Regions from separate parts of the Homo sapiens genome. Here regions 1, 2, 3, 4 and 5 are each linked to region 6. The links come from fine-mapping of genetic effects on gene expression. A gene starts in region 6. Each other region holds a variant in brackets. All regions are shown on one strand. Distances are from middle to middle.

What was found. PIP is the estimated chance that this variant, and not a neighbour inherited with it, causes the effect.
Region 1: its variant is fine-mapped to the expression of LYRM4 in whole blood (TOPMed, PIP above 0.99).
Region 2: its variant is fine-mapped to the expression of LYRM4 in whole blood (TOPMed, PIP above 0.99).
Region 3: its variant is fine-mapped to the expression of LYRM4 in visceral fat (GTEx, PIP above 0.99).
Region 4: its variant is fine-mapped to the expression of LYRM4 in whole blood (TOPMed, PIP above 0.99). The same link has a PIP of 0.9 or more in monocytes and monocytes after LPS.
Region 5: its variant is fine-mapped to the expression of LYRM4 in whole blood (INTERVAL, PIP 0.95).

The regions. Positions count from the first base shown.
Region 1 is chr6:5,107,281-5,111,368 of GRCh38, reverse strand. LYRM4 (LYR motif containing 4) reads left to right here. Exons shown (of 3, transcript NM_020408.6): 3 at 1,878-2,950. The coding sequence ends at 1,946. The region is part of intron 3 of LYRM4-AS1 (LYRM4 antisense RNA 1); the gene reads right to left. Among named protein-coding and RNA genes, the nearest start is that of PPP1R3G, 24 kb to the right of the region's middle. The variant A/C (reference allele first, on the strand shown) is at 2,011.
Region 2 is chr6:5,236,376-5,240,463 of GRCh38, reverse strand. The region is part of intron 1 of LYRM4 (LYR motif containing 4); the gene reads left to right. It overlaps LYRM4-AS1 (LYRM4 antisense RNA 1), which reads right to left. Exons shown (of 4, transcript NR_126015.1): 4 at 1-2,756. LOC124901249 (a long non-coding RNA gene) reads left to right here. Exons shown (of 2, transcript XR_007059423.1): 2 at 1-1,913. Among named protein-coding and RNA genes, the nearest start is that of LYRM4, 23 kb to the left of the region's middle. The variant T/C (reference allele first, on the strand shown) is at 2,285.
Region 3 is chr6:5,087,616-5,091,703 of GRCh38, reverse strand. PPP1R3G (protein phosphatase 1 regulatory subunit 3G) reads right to left here. Exons shown (of 1, transcript NM_001145115.3): 1 at 2,217-4,088. The region is part of intron 3 of LYRM4-AS1 (LYRM4 antisense RNA 1); the gene reads right to left. It also overlaps a transcript of LYRM4 not described here. Among named protein-coding and RNA genes, the nearest start is that of PPP1R3G, 4.3 kb to the right of the region's middle. The variant C/T (reference allele first, on the strand shown) is at 1,580.
Region 4 is chr6:5,133,662-5,137,749 of GRCh38, reverse strand. The region is part of intron 2 of LYRM4 (LYR motif containing 4); the gene reads left to right. The region is part of intron 3 of LYRM4-AS1 (LYRM4 antisense RNA 1); the gene reads right to left. Among named protein-coding and RNA genes, the nearest start is that of MIR3691, 13 kb to the left of the region's middle. The variant C/G (reference allele first, on the strand shown) is at 1,768.
Region 5 is chr6:5,127,443-5,131,530 of GRCh38, reverse strand. The region is part of intron 2 of LYRM4 (LYR motif containing 4); the gene reads left to right. All of the region lies in intron 3 of LYRM4-AS1 (LYRM4 antisense RNA 1), which reads right to left. Among named protein-coding and RNA genes, the nearest start is that of MIR3691, 19 kb to the left of the region's middle. RefSeq lists an enhancer at 1,109-1,695. The variant G/A (reference allele first, on the strand shown) is at 1,533.
Region 6 is chr6:5,259,163-5,263,250 of GRCh38, reverse strand. It overlaps LYRM4 (LYR motif containing 4), which reads left to right and starts at 2,301. Exons shown (of 3, transcript NM_020408.6): 1 at 2,301-2,603. The coding sequence starts at 2,518. It overlaps FARS2 (phenylalanyl-tRNA synthetase 2, mitochondrial), which reads right to left and starts at 1,738. Exons shown (of 7, transcript NM_006567.5): 1 at 1,591-1,738. RefSeq lists silencers at 2,221-2,440, 2,501-2,810 and an enhancer at 3,021-3,070.

The sequences.
Region 1 (4,088 bases), 150 kb after region 6:
GTGGACACTTCTAGGACAGGTTCCTGGTGAATCCCCTGAGATCAATTAAATACAGAACAAGCTCCCAGGTAGCTGAACCATCCCAGCTGTTATACAAAACTGTTTGTATTAGCCTAGTTTTAATTATCCAAAAAGTAATGGTTCCCTTTTTTTTAAGGATCATTGGTATTCTAGCCTTTCTTTTCTCAATATCATTTGATAGTGGGTTCATCTATCTGTTGAGGTTAATATATGAAAACAAAACCATGTACTATTCAGGGTGGAGGACAATGCCAATCCTCCCCTTCTCTGTAGTAGGGTATAGATGGCTTCAGCTCACCCAGCAGCTATTTCAGGTTGTCCAGAAGGGAAGGCCAGAAAGTCCCTGTGCTGCATTCATCGTGACTGTACCGTAGCCCCTGAGAAAACCAGTGCGGCTCCTCACAGCCCTCAAGATGATTTCCGACCTTGCCACCTAAAGTGTGGCCCGTGGACCAGCAGCATCAGCATTACCTGCAGGTTGCGAGAAACGCAGCACCCCAGACCCTCCCCATCCACTTGCGTCCAAAGTCTTCTCTATATTAATGAGAGGAAAGGACGACTGAAGACACAGTAGCAAAGCTCATCACTGTGACTTGTTAGGAGCACTCATTCTCTACACCCCCTTCCCATAACTCCTACCTACCTCTTTTGGTTTTTAATTAGGACATTCACTTGCATTTAAAAATACCTGCAAGATCCCCCCATCCCCCATATCTCCACTGTCTACTTCTCGTTCTTCTTAGATGACGTGCTGCTCTCGCCTCTTCCTTCGCTTTCTCTTGCACCGCAACACTTAGTTATTATCCATGCCACGGACCTTCAAGATACCTCTGTGCAAGGGCAGACTGAAGACCGAGCAAATGGCATGGAAAACAGGACACCTCAGATGGACGGCGCGGCGGTCCTTGGTGACAGAGCACTGCTCTTTAACACATGCTGTAGTAATGACATGATCGCCTTCTGTCCGGGGCCTTCACTTCGAAATAGAGCACTAAGATCGGGGAGGAAAACCATGAGGATGTTGACCCCTGGCTGCTCTGTTTGCTTAAACAGCAGTTACTCACCCCGAATTACCCATAGATAGTGACCAACTGGTCTGAAATCCAGATAGAGTTGCTAATGATCAGCCCTTCCTTCACCCATTCCACTTGTTCTTAAAAATGTATCACTCAGGAAATGCTTTACAGAAAAACTGTGGCAAGACCCTTTGTTGCAGAGGAAAGACCTGCTCTAGCCCCAGAGGATGGCTCCAGCATCCACCTGGGACAGTGGAAACATTGGGCATTAAGACACTTAATAAAAAGGACACTTTAAAAAGAAGGGGGCAGGAAAGATAGAAGGCAGGAGGTGCAGGCACTCAGACAACTGCCCTCGACCCCACCCGGGATGGGCCACGGACAGGTGTCTGCATTGCCCTGAATGCAGCGCTTTTCCTACCCCAGCATAGACGGCGCCCATTTCTGCACTGTTCTAAAACCCCTTCCCTATGCGAGAATCAGTTCTAAGGGAAGGAAGCCCTCTTAGGAGAGGAGGTACTGGGCACACATCTGACAGCTCTGCCACCAGCAGGCAGGCGTCACCCAGCTCAGCACAGCCCCGAGTCCCAGGCTGCAGCCTCCTGTGCTGTTTCAGAGGGGAGGAATGGGTGTGTGGATCTCTGTAACTTCTCACAGTGAGGGAAACGGGGGTTGGATGGTGCTCTAGTGGCCGGCTTTGCCCCGCAGTGCAGTTGCCGGAAGGGAGCAGCCCTGGGATGGCCGACGTTTGTATTAGAAATGTTAGGAAATGTTCCTTCTGGCCTTTCCCAGGGGCTAGAGGGCCACGGTTCCTGACCTGTGTCCTTTCTTTGCCTTCAGGTCCACATTGGCCAACTGTATTCAACTGACAAGCTGATCATTGAGAATCGAGACATGCCCAGGACCTAGCAAGCCGGGGACCAGCCACCAGTGGCGGCCAGGGACCACCTTCAGCATCCACTCTCTGTTTGAG[A/C]TGGGGGCTCCCAAAACCAGCTTACAATAGCCTTTTGCGCTGCCTGTCCTGTGGGAGCTGATAAACCAAGTCACATTTGCATTCTGTTGCAGGCTTAGTGAAAAAGGACTGCTGTCTTTCCTTGGTTCAAGTGTTAGAATGGAGAGCTGGAGTTCGTTCAGAATAGTGCTGTGTGTTACCACGTCTCCCCTGCACCCCATTCCTACCTTGTAGCTCATGACCATTGTGTATAGCATTTCTACACTTTGTTTCTTGGTCCTTGGCAATAAAAAGAATGATCTCCCTGAGCCTTTGACCCCAGATAAACCCCTCCCAATTAATGCATTTTCATTTCCTACTGATACAAGGCCTGGAGAGGGCTGTTGGGGGCCCTCAGGGAGGGTTCAACTCTGAGACGAGAACTGCCTTGGTGAAGGCAAGTTCAAGCACCACTTGAGACTGGGGGCAGCATGGAGTAGGGCAGGGCTACGGGGATACACGGTGCACCCTGCAACTTATACCTGAGCCCAGTACAACAAAGGTGACGGGTGTGTAGGTACACACCCAGAGATGGAGCACTGCAGATCAGCAACCTCAGCCCCACCTGGGAATTTGCTGGAAATGCAGGCTCAAGCCCCTCCCCACACCTGGTGAATGAGAGAGCCCCAGCCTGACCCAAGCCCAGGGCGACTCCCATACCCTGAAGCCTGGGGCATGCTGGGCAGCACCGGTGCCCAAATCTGGCTGGTGGACAGAAGCACCTGGAGAGTTGGAGAGCTTTTTAAAAAGACATCTCTCAGCACTTCCCTCTCTGCAGATTCTGACTCAGTAAGTGAGGGGTGAGGCACAGTCATTTTTCTCTATTCTGAAGCTCTCCCACTGTTTTCAATGTTTAACCAACTGGGGACCCCTGCTCTTTAAGTATATTACAGGTAATAAAGATATTGTTTGTATGCTTTTATTCTTGGAAACAGATTCATTCCAAACATAGAAAGAACATATTAAATAACTTGCTTGTCATCTGGGGAGTTTACGAGGGACCAGACCTGGCAGAGCGGTTTCTTGTTTCCCTTTGCATACAGTGCTCAGTGGATTTGGTATCTGTGGGTTAAGGTTTGGAACAGGCTCCTATAAATAGCACCGGTCCTGGAATAGCTGCAGCACTGTCACCCCCTCATTTTAACTCCGACGGTCATGGGAGTGAGTACGCACTGTCTGAGCCCGTGTTCTTCTCACCCTCATATGAGAACTCATGTCTTCCAGTCGCTTTTAGAGAGCATAGATTTGCTGCAATGATGCGTTCAAATAGATGTAACGTGTAGCCATTCTATTTGGCAGTACAACTTTTGATTTCAGGATAAAGTCTTTTTTTTTGAGATGGAGTCTCGCTCTGTCACCCAGGCTGGAGTGCAGCGGTGCGATCTTGGCTCACTGCAACCTCCACCTCCTGGGTTCAAGCCATTCTCCTGCCTCAGCCTCCCGAGTAGCTGGGATTACAGGGGCCTGCCACCACGCCCAGCTAATTTTTTGTATTTTTAATAGAGACGGGGTTTCACTATGTTGGCCAGGCTGGTCTTGAACTCCTCGGCCCCCCAAAGTGCTGGTATTACAGGCATGAACCACCACCCCCTGCCAATTTCAGGATAAAGTCCTGAGCATCTGTGAAAATAATGAAGCTCTTAGCAAGTCCCAGATCTCTTACCCTCTAACCAGTTCCTGCCTGGGAGCTGCAGTGTTAGAGCATATGCAAAGCCCTAATTGGGGGAGAGCTGTTCGGTGGACAGTGAACGGAGGTGATGTGGCAAGTATAATCACTCCCTTCAGCTGACTGTCACGGGGCAGAGCCGCCCAGCCCAGCCCTGTGTGTGGCTCTGGCTCAGGTTTTCCACCTTGCATCAGTGCAGTGGAGTTCGTGGTCACTCAGCAGTGAATGCATCCAACCACGCTACTAACGCACGGCACTGCTGATTTATACTTAATTTAAGCAACTGCTACTTGGAACCGAAGTCCAGATTTGAACCTCCGTGCTGAAGGCATCAAATTGCCGGCAAGATAACAGCTCCAGAGGAGACTTCTCCCACTCCCCCAGGTTTTACGCA
Region 2 (4,088 bases), 23 kb after region 6:
CTGCTATTGTTTTAGATTTCTTAAGTAAATATTTTTGTATTGTGTTTGAGTATCCTAAGGTAATATTATCACAAAGGGTACAGTTTTATACATTGAAAATAAATTAACTTGGGTACATGCCATATTCCAAAGTGTCAGCAGAGGAGGGGGAGTAGTGTTAATGTAAATACTTCTGCAGAGTAGTAATAATGGATGGCAGAAAAAATGAAGAGAAAGGAAAGATAGGAGGTGAGATTTTACCAGAGTGAGTCAGGGAACAAGCAGACGTAGAGAAGGCCTGGAAAGGTTGGATGTACTGTAAGGAGAGTTTTCAGCAATAGGATACAGCTGAGGCTAGGTTTGGCAGAGCTAGGTGGAGTACTGAAAGGTGATGTCTTCGAAGCCTGTGGTGTTTTGAGTCTTATTTTGCCCTGTTTACCTTAATGGAAGGAAAGATCCTAGACCACAGGCCCTGGGTTCCACCTGATTGGCTGCGGCAGGCAGCATGAGCATCCCTGCCGGGGGCATCAGCTTCCCTTCTCTCTCTGTCCTCTCATGCACTTGTTCTGCGCCATGGCCAGGTACTGTTCCCTATGGGGGTGGTGAGAATGTTTTTAAGGGCCTATGCTCAGGGACCCTCATAGAGCAGAAACCCAGATTCTGCAGGTCTGGAAGAGCCTTGGGAAAAGACCAATGTGGCCTGTGCCGATTAGGAAGTCAGTGATACCCTGACAGCCTGCAGCTGGTGGGAATGGTCTGTGCACTCTCCCGGCTGTCAGCTGCCCTCACTCCTCACTCTGCTGCAGTCTGGCCTGCCACCTTCCTTCTTGTCACTTTCCTTCATTGTATCTTTGGCCCAATTAACCAGTCTCCAGCTTCTTTCTTCCTTCCCTAGCGTGCGGGACACCACCTTCTCCTTGTCTGCTCCTCTCTTGGCTCCGCTTGACATTGGAGGCCCCTTGCACTCCATCTTGACCTTCCCACACCCTCCCTAGATGCCCACAACTCATGGCTCCAACCTTGTGTGCTCTAGTGATTCCCCTCCATTTGTCCTTTCCAGGGGCCTCCTGGGCATTTTCTGGTTATGCTACCAACACCTCGTATCTAAACTAAAACTCCACATCATCCCTAACCCATCCCCAACCTAATCCTTCAGGCAAACTCAACACTCCAGCATTGCCTCTCATCATCCCAGTATTTCCTTGTGCAAGCTGGAAGTCACTTCACTTTCTCCCCTTACTTTACCGTAGTCAGTAGGTCCTTATGCCCAGCAGGTTCTCTCACTTATTTCCCTTGCCGGACCTTCTTTATGTCTCACGAGTTGATTGCTTTTTGTTGGTTCATCAGTTTCTGTCTGCATTTTGTACAGCCCCCTCCGGGTCTATCTACCTCCTGTTCTTTGCTCTGCCAGGCATCCTGCCTATTGCCACCGGAAAGAATATCTTTCTAAATTCCAAATCTGATTCTGCTGCTTGCTTAACACATGCGTGTAAAAGTAGCATAATGGGTTATCAGAAGCAGAATTCTTCCTTTAGAGGCTAACATTTTGTCAAGAAAATTTGACTAGGTAGATTTCAAATGCATAAATGCTGAATGAGAGCCCAGTTAATAGTCTCGGACTATGAATAACTGTGTCCAAGACCTTATTATGTTTATATGAAATAGGTTGGATTTGCTTATAAAATTCAGGTATCCTAGTAGATTCATTTTCTGCTGCTGGAAATAGTAAGGACTGACCCTGGGTCAAAATTTGCATTTGTTTCCTATCATGTAGAAACTTCAGCAAAATAAACAGGATCATAAAATTAACATTTTATTGTTCTTCACAGATCTGTATTCACTTCACCACTCTCACTGAATTAAATCACCCTGTTACTTGTTTATGTAAGGAAAAAAGAACAAGTCAACTGACTGAATAAACTATGGGTTATTTACAAGGCCCCTGGACTTACTCCTATTTAAATGCTTATGATTTGTTAGTTGACTTAATATATCCAGTGCCTATACAAATTCAGATAATCAATGATGTCTCTTTAAACACAAATCCTCTAATAAGAATTTCTTTTTTAACATGAGTATAGAATTACGCTGGGAGTGACTTCTCTTAACACTGTCATTTTGCTGCAGCATGGTTAAATTAAATTTACTTGGACTGCCCTGTGAACCTTACCATCATTTAACATTGTTGTTCCAAATTCTCAGTAAGAAATTTTAGAACCCTATCATGTCTCTCAGTATATAGTTTATACTCCCATAGTTTATTTGAAAACAAGTTGCATTTAATTTTATTCTGAATTTCGATATA[T/C]TTTTAACCACAGATCAGAATTGTTTGTGGGTGTGTTAAGTAAGAAAAATCAGGAAAATAAGAATAGGAAAACCAAAATAAGTCCTGGGATGAGGTTTCCAAGCAAAAGGGTGGTTAGAAGGCAGGACAGTAAGCAGCCAGGAGCACGGCCTCAGGTCTGGTTCTGAGCTTCCCAGCAGCCTATGCAGGGAGAGGACCATGATTAGTAATGTGAGTCAGAGTGTCTGTGATACCGAAGCAGCCACTTTCTTAGAAGAATTGTAACTCTTTCTGGTGCTAAAGCGGAAGACATTCTCTTATGCTCTTTCAATGAAGGGCAGCATCCTCAGCATAAGTACAACAGTTTCAAAGGGCCTGTGCTTCTGGCATCCTGTCACGTTGGCTGGTAGCACAAGGCCACAGTAGGAAAGCATTTTGCAGGTAACCAAAATTGCAGGTCCTTGGCACATCCAACAGACACAGCTTAGCATATCTAGAAGAGTAGATACAGGGCTTGTCTTTTAGGCAATCCTTCATAAGTAGTGCTCAGTTCACCCCAACTTTTCATACATTTTAAACCAGTGGTCCCCAACCTTTTTGGCACCAGGGACTGGTTTCATGGAAGACAATTATTCCACGGACTGGGGTTGTGGGGGATGGTTTCAGGATAATTCAAGCACATTACATTTATTGTGTACTTATTTCTGTTTATTACATTGTACTATATAATGAAATAATTATGAAACTCACCATAATATAGAATCAGTGGGAGCGCTGAGCTTGTTTTCCTGCAACTAGATGGGTCCCTCTGGGGATGATGGGAGACAGGGACAGATCTTCAGGCGTTAGATTCTCATAGGGAGTGCACAACCTAGATCCTTCGCATGCGCAGTTCACAATAGGGTTTGTGCTCCTATGAGAATCTAATGCCACCACTGATCTGACAGGAGGTGGAGCTCAGGTGGTATTGTGAGCGATGGGGAGTGGCTATAAATACAGATGAAGCTTCGCTCATCTGCTGCTGTGCAGCCCAGTTCCTGATAGGCCACAGACAAGGGTTTGGGGACCCCTGTTTTAAACACCAGTGGATGTGAAGTTACACTCCCATACAAGCTCTAGACTGAGTAGAAAGCCAATTCTTTACCTTGAGGGATTTCCCACGGACAGAGTCAAAGACCCCTAAGAACTTTGAACCCACTGCAATTCAAAGCCCTTCTGTTCTGTTCCTTAGAGATTGTCTTTTTAAGAGACAGGGTCTCACTGTCACTCTGGCTGGAATGCAGTGGCATAATCACAGCCCACTGCAACCTCGACCTCCTGGGCTCAAGTGATCCACCCACCTCAGGCTCCCAAATAGCTGGGGCTACAGGCATGCAGCACCACACCCAGCTAATTTTTAATTTTTTTTTTTTTTTTTTAGAGACAGGGTCTCACTGTGTTGCTCAGGCTGGTCTTGAACTCCTGGGCTCAAGCAATCCTCCCGCCTTGGCCTCCCAAAATGCTGGGATTACAGATGTGAGCTACTGCGCTTGGCCCCCTTAGAGATTTTTTTAGAGGGATTATTATAACAGACCATCTCTTTTAAACAAAATAATATTCAGATGAGATCTTCAAATAATTTATAAACTGTAAGTCTGTAGGGTTAGTTTGAGTTAGGAGCCACTTAACATGTACCAAAAATGAAAACTTTGGTTTCAGAAAATTTTATCTAACACTTTTTTTTTTTCCTTTTTTTTTAGATGGAGTCTCACTCTGTCGCCCAGGCTGGAGTGCAGTGGTGCTGTTTCAGCTCACCACAACCTCTGCCTCCTGGGTTCAAGCAATT
Region 3 (4,088 bases), 170 kb after region 6:
AACTCAGTAGGAAAATCTCACCAGCAAATCTTAAAAGGAAGCCCTTGATCTTTGCCATCTCAAACATCTTCATTTAGCTGACATGTGCCTCTGTTCTTTCCAAAAGTTTCCTGTTCACAGTTAACCAAAGTCAAAGAACTAAACTTCACAAAAAGCAAATGCAATGTCTACCAAAAAGATTCAAAAGAGTTGAAATCTGAATGCGCCTGAAGTTACGGTATTTAGCACTCTGACAATCAGACCTTGAAGGATTTAAGGATCAGTGACCGCTGCGTTCTGATGTCACCTCCCTGATCAGCTAAAGGGAGTCCAAAGAGGAACACAACAGTTCACAAGGTGGAAGGTGTCTATTTTGTGGTCTGGAAGCAAAAAACAGTGTGTCCCAGGTTTCCAAGCACCTGCCCACTTACACTCAAGACAGCCAGGACCACTCTGTAGGAGGGGAGGCCGGGACACTGCAATGAGCCCGGATTGTCAGCTGTTCCCAGCCCCTTGCCTTAGTGACTTCAGGCAGCACATCCCTGATTCCAGGAGTCCATCGGGTCCTGGCATCTTGGGGACTGGCTGGACAAACGCTGGACTGCAAATAATCCGTGTTGCCAGTTGAGTTTCCACAAGTCACAGCATATTCTTTTAATCTACAAACCTGGGTCCTATTGTGTGAACCAAAAATGCAAGTTTGATTCAGTTCCATGATGCCATTAATAAAAAAAAAGAAATCACATTTCCTCTCTAGGGCTGTTCCTTACACTCCTGATAAAGAACACATGGCACCAATCACTCTGCCCCACAAGGCTCCAAGCCACAGTGCTCCAAAGAAACACAGAACTGAGTAGGGGAATGAAAGATCTTAGCCTACTAAAATAGAAACCGTTGTGCTAGAAAGCTGAAATATGGAAACCTGTGAAATGACGTATGAAGAATCCGACACTAATGCTCCTAAAATGAACTGAGCAGGAAGGCTGTGGGCGGCCTCCTTGTGGACAGGCTCAAGAGCCACAGCATTCCAGGGAAGCCCTCACCCCTCGGTCAAGGCAGAAGAAAGGACACTGCATGAGGGGACGGTCAGAATGGAAAGCCCACCGCACACCTGAGAGGAGAAAATCCCCTGCCCCTACAGCTGAGGTTTGTGGATAACAGCAACTACCCCCATTCCCAGTTGCTCCTGAAAGGCTGCCTGAGCCGTGGCTCTTGCTGCCCTGGACAGAGACTTCCAGTGTCTCCAGAGCTCAGTGGGTTTCCAGAGTCCACCGTACACTTCCTGGAGCAGGATCCTACCCTCCCTAGTTAAGTCTTGGAACTGGCTGACCACCTTGCTTCATAAACCGGAAGCTTCCCGGGGAGAATATTGTTTCATACAAACTGCCACATTCCCAGCCCATGTTTCTGAAGCTCTAGATAGGGACACATTTCATCCAACATTCCCTCACCCAGTGATCCATGGACACACTTGCCAATAAGGAAGAAACTAGACTCCCTCTCTGGTGGAGGACAGGGTCATTAACTCAGCTGAGAACTTAGTTTTTATCACTAGTGCTAGGTAACGTGTTAAAGTTATTGCATTTTTAAGGAGAATGAC[C/T]TTCACTTACTCAAGTTGAAGCAAATATTGCTGCAAAAAAGCACTGACTGCATTGCAGGGATTTTGTTTGTGGTGTGTGTGTGGTGTGTGTGTGTGTGTGTGTGTGTGTCTTCCTTTCAGGAAATACACTCTTAAATACTTCCTCACTCTGGTCGTATTGCCCTTTCCTTTGAAATAACTTTTCAAAAACAAAGAAAACCTATTTTTATTACCTTTACATTTCACTGCATAATGTTTGCTATTAGTCTACAATGAGAAGTTGGCACTTTTATAAAACAAAATGGACATTCAAAAGATTGCCAGTGCTAATGCTTTGGAAAGGCTACACACATTGGTGAAATACTGGGCTGTTTAAAATATTTTACCAAATTATGAACATTTGACGCACTAGTCTCTGAGACTGGGAGGAGAGCAAAACTAGGTTTCCTTTCCTAGCAGCCATACTGGATGCTCATTATATTATGAAATAGTTTCTTTTAAAATGAATCATTTGAACTTTAAAATATAGTTTTGAAAATCAGTAATGGTGTTATGACAGAATAGAAAGTCTTCTGTACATACCACTAAAAATCTATTTCTCTTGTTTGAGTCCAGATTTAATGGGTTACCATTTTAAAGGATACTAGACACAAAGATCTCTGTTTGAATCATTATATTGGGCTCCTCATTTAATTTTAAGTAATTCAAAACAATTCAAAATGTTGCTTTATTGCCCCACAAACAAGCATTTTCAAACAATGTTATAGCATATGTATACTGTCAATATCTTAAAAATTAATGTATTTATAAATATATCGGAAAAATATGGTTATGCAATAATGTACTTTTAAGAAATGGTATATCAGACCAAGATTACCTGATGATGCATCAGAAGGCTTCATAGCTTTTATATTTAGTAACAGAAAAATTGTTTCATTTTATCATTTATTTTTCGTCAAAGTTTTTATAAGCATATATGAATTAAGTATTCATTAGTTCATTGATATGACCATTGACCATTTTTAAAAGTCTAAATTGTAATATGTTAACTCCTGATGGCTTGCTGTCAATAAATTATTTTTTTCCTATGATCAGTTTACTTTGGGAAACACTGCCATAGTCAAAGGGATATCTCCAACCCAAAGTTCAAACTAAATACTTCCATTGTGTAAGATGCCACATTTTGAAGCACAGAGAAATATCTGGCAGCTTTGTAGTTTGAAGCCAATTCAAACGGGTGCTATGTTTCAGTTGCACTGATGTGTTACTATTTTTTTAGGTGAAAGAAGGCAACAGGTAGATTCCCCTGCCTGACACAATGATAACCGCACTTTTCACATTTTCGTGTTTATTCTAAACAAGATTACTGAGAGTCATATAAAGCTTTACCTTTACCCAAAGGGGGTTTATTTCAAGTGGCAAAAGCTCACTAAAGTCTAAATGCTTTATTAACTATAATTGTCAGCATATTGTGTTTAAAAAACACTACTTCCCTAGAGCAGGGGTTGGCCAGCCTTTTGTAAAAGGGCCAGATAGTAAATATTTTACACTTTGCCATCTGGTCTCTGCTGTGTCTACTCCACTCTGCTGCGGTAGCATGGAAGCAGCACAGAGAAGACAGAAATGAGTGTGCACGGCTGTGTTCCAGTAAAACCTGATTTGTGAACACTGAAATATATATTTTATATAATTCTCACGTGCCACCAAATAGTACTTTCTTTTGAATTTTTTTCAACAATTTAAAAATGTAAGGCCAGGTGAGGTGGCTCACGCCTATAATCCTAGCACTTTGGGAGGCCAAGGCGGGTGGATCACCTGAGGTCAGGAGTTCAAGACTAGCCTGGCCAACATGGTGAAACCCTGTCTCTACCAAAAATACAAAAATTAGCCAGGTGTGGTGGCAGATGCCTGTACTCCCAACTACTCTGGAGGCTGAGGCAGGAGAATCGCTTGAACCTGGGAGGCGGAGGTTGCAATGAGCCAAGATCGCACATTGCACTCCAGCCTGGGCGACAAGAGTGAAACTCCGTCTCGAAAAATAATAATAAGAAAATTAAATTAAAAATAAAAATGTAAAAACTATTCTTAGGTCACAGGCCCTACAAGAATAAGCTGTGTGCCAAATTTGGCCCATGGGCCAAATGTACGTATGCCCAGCCCTGTTCTATCAAGCAACAGTGAAACTGTCCCTCCTTAGAGACTACCATCCCTAAAACGACTGACTGTACTCGCCATGTGCTGGAAAATGGGAAGACTTAAAAAAAGGGAAATCACTGAGGCAGAGTCAAGGGGCGACAGACCTTACTCGGGATGCCCTCCTGCCCACCCATGCACAGAGGGCCACATCATCCTGGCATCCACAGCCAGCACAGCGACCAAGGCCGTCCATACCCCACCCAACGGGCCTGCAGAGGTGGCCATCTGCGTCTGCGCAGCACTGACTCGCTGGGCATGCCTCCTCTTCCATCAAGTCACCACTCCCCACTGTGGCTCTGAGAGGAACAGAAAGCCACTTTCCCATCCCCCATCC
Region 4 (4,088 bases), 130 kb after region 6:
AATAGGGCAACAATCAACTGGGTGGTTTTAATTATTCAGATAGAGTCACAGGACATTAGATGCAGAATATTAAAATCTCCATCATTCAGGGGAAATGATCTTAAATACAGATAGAGGCATATCACTAGCCGGGTAGCAGAGTCATTATTTAAAGGACACTAGAGTTCCTCTGTGAGGAGGAACTGAGCTCAAAGAAGATGTTCAGTATCAATGCAGTGAGATTACAGAGTACAAATCTGAACACCTTTGTAAGCTTCTCACTAAGTGGAGGAGTGGGGCCAACTCCAGGAGCTTGGTTTTTGCTTGTCTGAGAATCTCTTGACAGGTCCTAGAAGCAACCATTCTATGTTGGGGCTTAAAAAGAAGAGGTAGTGTGATCCAGCAATCCCACCCCTACATGTATACTCAAGAGAAATGAAAACGTGTCCACACAAAGACTTATATGCAAATATTTATTGAAACCTTATTAGCAATAGCCAAAAAGTGGAAACAACCCAGATGGCCATCAGATAATAAATGGATGAGCAACATGTGGTATAGCCATACAATAAAAATATTATTGGTGGTAAAACGGAACCAAGTACTGATACATGCTAGAACACGGATGGCCCTTGAGAACATTATGCTACGGGAAAGAAGCCAGACACAAAAAGTCACGCATTGTGTGATTTCGTTTCTGTGAAATGGCCAAAATAGGCAAATGCATCGAGACAGAAAGTGGGTTAGCGGTTGCCAGGGGCTAGAGAGGATGGGACATTTGAAAGGCGACTAATGAGTAGTGTTTCCTTGGGGGTAATGAAAATGCTCTAAAATTGATTGTGGTAATGGATGCACAACTGTGAATATACTAAAAACCATTGAATTGTACACTTTAATTGGATAGATTTGATGGTGTATGAATTATATCTCCATAAAGCTGTTAAGAGACATCAGGAAGAGACCAGAGTTTCTTCTGTGCGGAGCCCTCTGCCACAGGAAAGGAAGGAAGTCTACCCAGTCTTCCTACAGGCGCTGCTCCTTGGGGCGGTTTAGCATGTCATTACCACAGACTGTGGCTAGGACCTGTGGGACTCATTTGTAAATGCCACCTTCTTTGACAACACCTGGGATTGTTGAAATGGAAGTAATCGATTACTAGAAGCCATTAATTGAAAGCTGTGTGCCAGGCATTGTAGTAAGACATTATAAATACCATCTAACTTATGTAAAATTGACATTATCCCATTCTGTAGGTAAGGAAACTGAGACTACAGGGTTAGGTGAAACCCAAGGTTTCGGAGCCAGTGATTGGCAGAGCAGGTGTTTAAACCAGGTTTGTCTTGGGACAAACCCCAGGCTCTTAAGTACTACATTATCGTGTCTTCCCGCTTCTCCACCCTCAACCCAGCCCCAGTCAAAAAGGCAGCAGGAAAGGGGACAAGTTATCATTTAGAAGAATACTGATTTGGTTTTAAAAGTATTGAATAGAATGACCAAATGATCTAGTGATTCCATTTCTCAGTATATACCCCAGAGAACTGAAAGCAGGGACTCAAAAGGATACTTGCCCACCAGTGTTCAGAGCAGTATTATTCACAACAGCAACCCAGTGTCCCTCAACAGACGCCTGGATGAACAAAATGTGGTACAGCCGTACAATGGAATGTTACTCAGCCCTAAAGAGGAAGGAAATTCCGCCACACGCCACAGCAAGGGTGAACCTTGACGACATTGTCCTAAGTGAAATAAGCCATAGAAGAAACAAATGCTGTATGATTCCACTTACGG[C/G]GGTCCCTAGAGTCCCCCTACAGACGGAAAGTAGAATTGCGGTTGCCAAGGACTGGAGGGGAGGGAGAATGGAGAGTTAGTGTTTAATGGCTACAGGGTTTCAGTGGAGGAAAATGAAAAGATTCTGGAGAAGGATGCTGTTGATGGTTGTACAACAATGTGAATGTACTTAATGCCACAGAGCTGTACACTTAAAATGAATAAAATGATAAATGTTGTGTTTTGTGTATTTAACACACACACATACACATCAGTATTGTGTGTGTTTGAAAGTCTAGAGCTAGAAAGCTTTTTTGAGTATATTTAGCAGGAAAACTTAAAAGAAAGTTCTCGTCTTTGGAGGAGACAGGCCTGAGGCATCCAGAGGAAATGAACACCACCTAGGGAGCCAGTTCCATTCCCATGAAAATCACACCTGGAGCGATCCGCACCCTCCACAGCCCCAGGAGCGATCCGCACCCTCCACAGTCCCGGGAGTGAACCGCACCCTCCACAGCCCCAGGAGCGATCCGCACCCTCCACAGTCCCGGGAGTGAACCGCACCCTCCACAGCCCCGGGAGTGAACCGCACCCTCCACAGCCCCGGGAGAGAACCGCACCCTCCACAGCCCCGGGAGCGATCCGCACCCTCCACAGTCCCGGGAGCGATCCGCACCCTCCACAGTCCCGGGAGTGAACCGCACCCTCCACAGCCCCAGGAGCGATCCGCACCCTCCACAGTCCCGGGAGTGAACCGCACCCTCCACAGCCCCGGGAGTGAACCGCACCCTCCACAGCCCCGGGAGTGAACCGCACCCTCCACAGCCCCGGGAGAGAACCGCACCCTCCACAGCCCCGGGAGCGATCCGCACCCTCCACAGTCCCGGGAGCGATCCGCACCCTCCACAGTCCCGGGAGTGAACCGCACCCTCCACAGTCCCGGGAGCGATCCGCACCCTCCACAGCCCCGGGAGCGATCCGCACCCTCCACAGCCCCGGGAGCGATCCGCACCCTCCACAGCCCCGGGAGCGATCCGCACCCTCCACAGTCCCGGGAGTGATCCGCACCCTCCACAGTCCCAGGAGTGAACCGCACCCTCCACAGCCCTAGGAGTGCCGTTACCAAGGGAGAGGAAGGAGAAGGAATAGGGATGAGATCTCTTAAATAGACATTTGATGACATTTTCCCCAATTTGTTAGTTGCAATGACGAAGACTTTTTGCTGTTTAACCTGTTATTATGGAAAAATGTGAAAATATACAAAAGTATGTAGAATTGTCAAATGAGTCCTGTGTATCCATCACCCATCTTTAAGAGTTAGATACTCTGTAATATCAATAGATGGTATTTTTCATCCTTACGCCTACCCATGCTCTCCCGTATTGTTTTGAGAAACTGTGTATTCGTTTTCATATTAAACTATTTTGGTACATATCTGAAAAGATGATTCTTTTTAAAACATAGCTATGATACCGTTATCATAACTAACAAAATAATGCTAATTCCTTAATATCATCAAATACAAAGTGTTTAAATTTTAATGTCTCACAAATATCACCAATCTTCAAACTGGGTGATCTGTCTGTAATCTGTCTTTAAAAGAAATCTATAGGCCCCATCTGTATCTTTTTTTCTTCCTTGCTCTTCTTTTTCCTTATAATTTATTTGCTGAAGAAGTCAGTTCTTTTGTCTGGATTTTGCTGATTTTATCTTGGTTTTCTTGCTTATCTTACATAAAAACTGAAAGCTCTATCTTAACCAACTAGGTTCTTAGCCTTGGCCAGACATTACACTCACCTGGGAAGCTTGTAAAATCCTGACATGTGTGGAAAGCAGCTTGTCACTTCCTCAATAAGTTAAACATAGAATTACCATATGACCCAGCAATTTCACTCCAAAAGAATGGAAACAGGTTCAGACACAGTCTTGTATTCGTATGTTCACAGCAGCACTATTTTCAATAGCCAAAAGATGGAAACAACCCAAATATCCTTCAGCTGAGGAAAGGGTCAACAATATGTGGTATTTCCACGCAATGGAATATTATTCATCCTTAGAAGTCACAAAGTACTCATGCGTGTTTACAACCTGGATGAACCTTGAAAACACTGCGGTAAATGAAAGAAGCCTGACACAAAAGCCACATATTATATGATTTCATCTGCATGTCTACGGAAACCCATAGAAACAGAACATAGATTAGTGGTTGCCAGAGGCTGGGAAAATAAGAAAACAGGGAGGGGCTGCTTAATGAGTATGGGGTTTCCTTTTGGGGGTGATGAAAATTTCCAGAACTAAATAGTGTTGATGATTGTACAGTTATGAAGGTACTTAATACCACT
Region 5 (4,088 bases), 130 kb after region 6:
ATGAGGTGTTGCTATGTTGGCCAAGTTGGTCTCAAACTCCTGGCCTCAAGTGATCCTCCTGCCTTTACCTCCCAAACTGCTGGGATTACAGGCGTGAGCCATTGCACCCAGCCAGACACAAATTTTTTTCATGTATTCTCTGAGATACATGTGTGTGTATTTAGTTTGTCCATTGTATTATTCAAATTCTCTGTGATTACCTTTTTAAGAGGAATATCAAAGCTCCCCACCATCATTTTGCCTTTGTCAGTTTCTCCTTTTATTTCTAATAATTCAGGTTTTATATACTTCGCTACAGTCTTATTTAGTGCTTACAGCTTTATGACTGCCGCATCCTGTCTGTAAATGTTGCTCATTATTTAGTTTGAAGGTTTTAGACTCAATTCTGCCTTGTCAAATATTAATATAAACTAGAATTTTCCCCCGCATATATACCCGGTATATCTTAACTCATCCCTTGATTTTCAGTCTTCCTTTACCACTTTTGTTTAAAGGGTTTTCATCTTGTTTTGTTACCTTTCCCAGTTAGTCCATTCACATTTCATATTATGGCTGATGGAGTTGATTTTATTCTGTCTTATGTTATTATGTATTTTAGTTGGTTCTCTCTTTTCCTTATTTTTAATGGTTTTTATCAAGTGACTATTCATTCCCTGTTTATCTCTCTTTTGTCAGTTTGGAAATTCCATTCTACTTTTCTGTGCCCTTAATGACTGTCTTCTGTAGCCCAATGTTTATAATTAGAAGCATATATTTTTTACTATTATGTATAAGAGGATACCAGTTTTTCCCACCAAGACCTGTTTCCCTAGACATAAATTTCATAAAGAAGTTTATTGCTGACTAGTTGTTTTTCCCGAGTCTCTGAGTGCTCTTGCTGTGTACCACTTGTTGTCTTCCTCTCCTCAGCAGTTTTAGAAGCAGCCATTTGTTTCAGGTTTTTCTGTCTGGCTCCTGGATTCCCTTAGGCAATATTTCTTTGTCGTCTCACTGGGGCCCAGGTCTGCTTGTTACAGCACCCCATGTGCCTACAGTTCTGCAGGTGGTAAACGTGAGTGGCTCCCTGCTCCGGAGGACCAGTGGGGCAGCAGTGGCGGCAGCTGCCAGTCTCCCTGTTCCCAGGTCCCCTGTGCAATGCCAGCCTGACGAACAGGGAGCAACAGCCTTGCTCTCTAGCCCCTGCTTGGCAGATAAAGCTCACTTGGGAGGCAGTGACAGCCAGATTCCCAGGGCTCACACGTCTCCTCCAGGCCCACTAATCCCAGAATCCCAGCGTTGGCCTCCAGGCCCTGCATGGTCCACCAGGAGGAAAGCTCTCATGAACTCCCCCTGCAGCCCACGCCCAGGCCCAAGACCTCACTCACACCAGTGTCTCCCCCAGCGCTGGGGTGGGAACAGGGGAAGCATAGTCTATTCAGGGCTCCACAGTTCCAGAATTCCTCTCTCTAGTACCTCTTAATGAAAAAGATTTCAGATTTAATTAGTTTTTGTAGCCAGAGCTGGGAATCTAATCCATATTTAGAACATAATCT[G/A]TAAGAAAAGCATATTCCAAGTACTTACCAACTTTGAATGAAGACTTCTGCAGCACAGCTGCCTTCCCACCCGTCCATACCCCTGCTTCACCTCAGCACGAATCTCTCTGACTTGGCCTGTTGGGCTGCTTTGCGCTCTCGCTTCTCCCTCCCTTCAGTGTGGCTGGTGGAGTAAGGATGGTCCTAGGTCCTACATTTTCACATTTTCCACAGTAAGATACATTACATTTTTAAAAATAATTGTTTTCAACAAAGCCATAAAGGAAGATCTGGTAGGCTGAATAATGGCCCCCAAAGGCGTCCACATCCTAATCCCCGAGACCTGTGAATGTTACATTTGATGGCAAAAGGGACTTCACAGGTATGATCAAATGAGGACCTTAAGATGGAGATCAGCCTTGGTTATCCACATTGGCCCTACTGTAATCACAACTATTCTTCTAAGAGGAAGGCAGAGGGAGGTTTGATTGCACAGAGAGAGAAAGTGGCAGAAGCAGAGATCAGAGCGGCTGCTTCGAGGATGAAGCAGGCACCCCAGGCTAAGCAACGCAGGAGGCCATACAAGCTGGAAAAGACAAGGAAACAGATTTTCCCCAGAGCCTCGGGAAGAAGCCAGCCCTGACAACACCTTGACTTTCACCCAGTGAAACTGATTTTTGACTTCTGGCCTCCATAACTGTAAGAGAATAAACTTGTGTTGTTCAAAGCCACCTGTTTGGGGGTAATTTTTGACTGCAGCATTAGGAAGCTAACACACAGGGTAATCCTTTGGAGAAACCTGGGTTGTCTCAGGGCAGCCCGCGAGCCCAATGCCACTATTTCCCATATTCCCAGCTGAGTGCGGGAGCAGGTAGACGCAGTCCGAAGATCACACCATCAAGTGCAGTGGCCACTGATGGCCTGGAAGCATAGCTGGGGTGCAGGCAGGGTTGTGGCCGCTCGCAGCCTCTAAGCCCTCAGGGACAGTGCACACGTGGAGAGAAGTCCTTTGGGGGATTGAGCAGTTTTTTGAGCAAGCGCATATGTAAGGAGCACATCAGAAGCTCTGGAGAGGCAAAGTCAAGCCTTTGAAGGGCATAGGCCCAAGCACTGGCTGCCCAAGAGAAGCCCCAGGCCCTTCTCTGCTGGTAGCATCTGCTCCCTCCAGGTGCTGGCGGCATCACCTAGTCATGCAGGTGACATGGGGCCTCACACAAAAAAATGTAAATAAAAGCAAGATTGATGAGCTTGGTCATACCCCATGTAGTAGTTCATATCCAGAGTCCTGTGGGAACATCGAAGTGTGGACAAAGAGGAAACCAAAAGAACAGTAAGAGGGTTCAAGAGACATGTTCACAAAATAGTTATGAGGAGGGAAAAGAGGAGGGAAGCATCTTCTCCAAATGCACGTATTTGTGACTGTCACTTCCTCTCAAGGGGCACTGAAATCTCCAGATATGATTTCCTTCCCTGAAGAGGAAGAAGTTAAAGGTGGCTCCTTTTTATCTGCCATCTGTCAGCCAGGCAGCCTTGTCACTTTGACTTTCTTCAAAGAGATGTACTCCACCACTATGAAGCCCAGTAGTTCCATTTACTCCTGAGTGAGGGGTGAGCTAGGGACGCAATTTGTATCTACGAGGCCACAGGGCATTCTTATTTTGCAACTCCATATCACCCCTGTGTACAGCTGGGAGCAGGGTGTGTGAGCGGTGATGGGTGCCCTGCTTCCAGGATATAAATGTCATCACTGCAGTCCTCTTCACTATGGCAGCTTCTATAAAATATTTCTCTGCAGACAGTAAGAAACCTAAATTGGGATTTTCACTTAATTTTTATTAATCCAAGCAGAACCAAGTTTGCTTTATAGAGAAATCAACAACTGTAAGACACCCTCTCCCATTGCCTGCCCAGACTCTTCCTCGTCCAGGTGCTGATTTGTCTACCACCAAAAAAATTGTAAAGGATGGTGTAAATGTCAATTTCTGGGTTTCATACTATCCTATAATTCGGCAGGATGTCTCCATTGGAGGAAATAGGGTGAAGGGTACAGGGACCCTCTCTCTACTATTTTTTGCAACTTCCTGTGAATGTATATTTATTTCAAAATTAAAAGCAAGGGTTAAAAATGGTAAATTGTAATGTAACAATGTTGTTTTTATCACAGGTTTTAAAAAACCCACTAAAAATAAATAAAAATGAAAAAAGGATGATACAGATCACATTGTCTATTAGAAAAATCACGTAAGCTATAAATGCAAGCTATATGTGTAATTGTCTAGTTGCCACATTTTAAAAAGCAAAAAAGAACAGGCAAAATTAATTCTAATAACAATTTCTTTAACCCAGTATATTTAAAAGATTGTCATTTAAGCAATACAAAAAAATTAACATATTTTCCTTTTTTTCTTACTAAGTCTTTGAAACCCAGTCTGTATTTTATACTTTATAGAACATCTCTGTTTGGACCAGCCATATTTCAAGTGCTAAACAGCCACATGTCCAATGGAGTAGCACAAGTCTAGACAGTATTGGGGCTGTAATTGCGAAATATTTAGTGACTTTTTAACCTGTATTTTT
Region 6 (4,088 bases):
AGTTGAGTAATTTAGATACATTAATTATGTACGTTAATGATTAAATTCCTTGATAATTAGGTAGAAACAATTGTATATAGTAATTATTCCAACTTTACTCTCAAAAGCAAAATATAATAAAATAATGTAATCTTTGCTATTTTTAAAAAAGCCAAAATAATCTTCAAGTTTTTCCTTTTCACTCTGATAGCATTCTCTATCAGTAACTTGCATTAATGTTGTAGCTTTGAGGTGCCGCATATCATTTCATATCACTGGCACACAATAGTGTATCAAGAGAAATCAGCTCTGAATCTTACTCTATAACAATGTGCAATTGCCTTGGTCTTGGATCCTTTAAGAAATAGCAAAGGGAAAACTCAAAAAAGTCCTTTCAATAAAGCAGAGGCTAGATTTGCTCAATGACCTGACCAACCAGGAAGTAATAGAAGTTTTGCTATCCTGTTTAAAAAATAATAATAAACAATAACAGACATGAGATTTTCAAGAAATCAGGGAGGAGACTTAAAGATATCTTAATAAAAGTATTTTCTCTTCAGTGCCTTTTAAAAAATGTCATTGCATCAGGATTAGTAAGAATATCTGGATGCAAGGACACCAGGTTGCAAGTACACTAAAGAATGGTAAGGTCAGAGAAGTGTTTTTTCTGCCTTTAAAGTTCCTGAAAATAGAGGCTGGGCGTGATGACTCACACCTGTAATCCCAGCATTTTGGGAGGCCGAGGCGGGCGGATTGCCTGAGGTCAGGAGTTCGAGACCAGCCTGACCAACATGGTGAAACCCTGTCTCTACTAAAAATACAAAAATTAGCTGGGCGAGGTAGCGCGCGCCTGTAATCCCAGCCACTCAGGAGGCTGAGGCAGGAGAATGGCTTGAACCTGGGAGGCATAGGTTGCAGTGAGCCCGAGATCCCGCCACTGCACTCCAGCCTGGGCGACAGAGCGAGACTCCATCTCAAAAAAAAGAAAAGGAAACAGAAAAGTTCCTGAAAATATAAAGTTGTTTAGACATACAGCAGGTATATCGTTTCAAAACCAAATACACTAAAGCAGATGAGAACACAACCGTGACCAAGTGGTTCGGAGAAAGATGGATTTTAATGCAAAGTTGTTTTGTTTTCACGCATAACGTACTTCTCGCTGTGCTTGAGTGCAGAAAGGTGTGGTTCTTCCTAAGGTTGATTACATAAAGCAAGATTCCAAAAACAAGAAAAGTGCTTTGCAAACACAGTAACTAGGACTGGCTGAAGCTTCCTGCGTCCAGTGCCATGCTCAAAGATCAGAACAAGCAACTTTATCCACCACTTTAATAAGATGATTCAAAAAAGCTGCAGTCTTCTGAAGAAAGCCATGGTTGAAAACTTGCTCCGCTTCTTGGAGAAAGCCTAAAGCCCTAAAGGTCTCTAATTATTCTCCAAAGTCTACAACCCAAGCTGCATTTTATGCATTTATTAGGTTACAAAACCACGGGAACTCTTCACTCAAAAGCAAAAACACATCCGGAAAGAGGAAAAAATCCACGGCCAATGTAAACCCCCTACAACACCAACCGCCCACGTCGTACCCCAGGCTGCAATGAGGCCGGCACTCACCCACCGCTCGCCCGGGAAGCCCAGACCCAGGTGTTTCAAAATCAGAAGTACGGCAGGCTCGTTCGCTCTCACGGGCAAGAATCTTAAACCCCAACTTCAGAGATACCCGCGCACGCTGGGCGCTGCCATTTTGACAGAAAGCGGGCCTGCCCCAGAGGCCCCTACGCAGGTCGCCCTGAGCAGAGCCGGAGTGCCACAGAACCCCTAGCTCATCACCTCCACACCCAGACGTCGCATCCCCCGGCCTGAGGAATGCCAAGAAACCCCACCCTGCCGACCAGGATCAGGCGAAATCAAGTCACCCTTGAAATCCCGCAAACTCTCTCAGGCAGCGCCGAGGGCGACCGCAGCCGGCGTGGGAGGGGCATCGGCGGTCAGGGGCGGGGCGTCGGTGCGGCGGCCTTCGGTAACCCGGGCAACGCGGCCTCCTGGATGTAGGAAGGGGCGCTGCCCCCGAAACACAAATGTCTCCGCCAAGACCCCAGACGGTTCCCAAAGGCTCTCCGTGATGCAACTGCACGTCCCTCGAATGCCTGGGCCTCCGATATCCGTCCGCCAGGAGCTTGGCTGGATGCACGGGCGGCCAGTCCTCTTATTTCCCCGCCCTCCCGCCGCGTGGAGCGGCTGCTGGGTCCCGAGCCTCCGGGCGGGGGCGGGATCGGGGCGGGGCGGAGGCATCTCCCTCCCAGCACCGCCCCCTTAGCTGCCCCGAGCCCTGCCTGCGCCCGCCCCCGAAGCGGCGCGGGACGCCTGGCGCCGTCCGCGATCCGCAGGGCTGCCCGCTTAGGCTTAGGCCCGGCCCGCTGGCAAAGCCGAGCCGCAGCATTTTATTTCGTTCGTGGTTTCCGCACAGGCTGGAGTTTCGTGGGTTGGGTCGTACTTGGGACCTCGGCGAAGAGGACCCGTTTATTTTTTTTTCTTTCCAAAATGGCAGCCTCCAGTCGCGCACAAGTGTTATCTCTGTACCGGGCGATGCTGAGAGAGAGCAAGCGTTTCAGCGCCTACAATTACAGGTGACCCAGCGGGCACCGGGGGCCGGGGGCGGGGGGCCAGGGGCCGGGGACCGGGGGTGCGGGCTGACGCGGAATATCCCCGGGGACTGGGAGCCACCGTGGTTTGCCGGCGGCTGCGAGGCAAGGACCGGGCTCCGCCATCGAAAAGCGTGCTCCTGCCTACAGGTGTGGCCTCTGAGACCTCGGGGAGGAGCCTTTCTTTCTACCAGGGGAGACGTTCATGTCTTGTGACGTTTTCCCCCTAAAGGCTATCTTGGTAGTTATTCTAGGAGCATGATTAGTGTTATGTTTCTGCAGAAGAGAAAAAAGGGATGGAAATCAGTCATTTGTGAAGTTAAGGCCAGTGTGTTGCATATGTAAAACTTCCCTTGAGCACTGGAAGAGTTGAGAGTGGAAGTGGCCAGTGAGTAGTACACTGCGACAAAGCTGAAGGCACACTCTAGCACCTCCCTAAAATTTCCTAGGTGTCGTAATGAGTTCTTTTGGTTGCAAGAATCCATTCTATTTAGGGTATGGTGGAAATGCGTAGCGGAAAAGGAAAAAGGGTCTCACAAGCTTTGGAGCTGAAACCTCAGTTTCTCCTGGCTCACCAGACAGAGATCCCGCTTACTGGACCTTGACAGCAGGATATTGAGGGCCTAAACTCACATCTTTAATATAACACATTCACTTTTTCTCACGCCTCCCCACTCCCCTATTTGCCTATGAGTCTTTTATTGTTACTCTTTGTATGTTTTTTCTAATTCAGAGCCTCTGCTTTCACAGTGTTGCTGGTTCTGACCCATCATTTTCTTATGGATTCTCTCTCTGCATTTTTTTTTAGATTTGTTTTTTGTTTTGTTTTGTTTTTACTAACTACCTGTCTCTCTCTGAGTTTGAGCCATATTCCCATGAGAAAGAATCTGGTTGGATCAACTCATCTCTTTACCTCAAGCCTCACTTAGGTGACTGGCCAGACTGTGGATTGGATGTCATAAGAGCAGAGCCTACCCTTGGAACACACCTGGTTAGGTAGGCCCCCCTCCAGCACGTGTGTGAGCTGGCAGGCCCTGAGATGGGTCTGCCCAGTACAACCTCTGTCAGAGGACAGGAACGCTAAGCCTCTTAAGCAATGACTCTCAAATTTTTAGAAACCCGCCTGGAAAATATACTCATGCTGCAAATTTGAAAACAGCATCTGGGTCATACCACTGAGGTTGTATCCACCCAGTTAAGTGGTTAAATTTCACGGGAGAGAATGATTTTACTTAATGACTTTGACTTTGGAGAATAAAGAGTGTAATAATAAGCATACTGGTGGAATTTTAGCAAGAATTAACCAAACACCTAGCACCAAGTACTTAACCAAGTCTGTTGAGGAAACACATGAAATATGCAAGTTAAATAAATAGAAACCATTTGATTTCACCATAGTCTGGAGTAAAATAGTTTGTCATTAAAGCTTACTCAGGATACACAAGGACTTGGAATCAGCAGGCAGTTCAC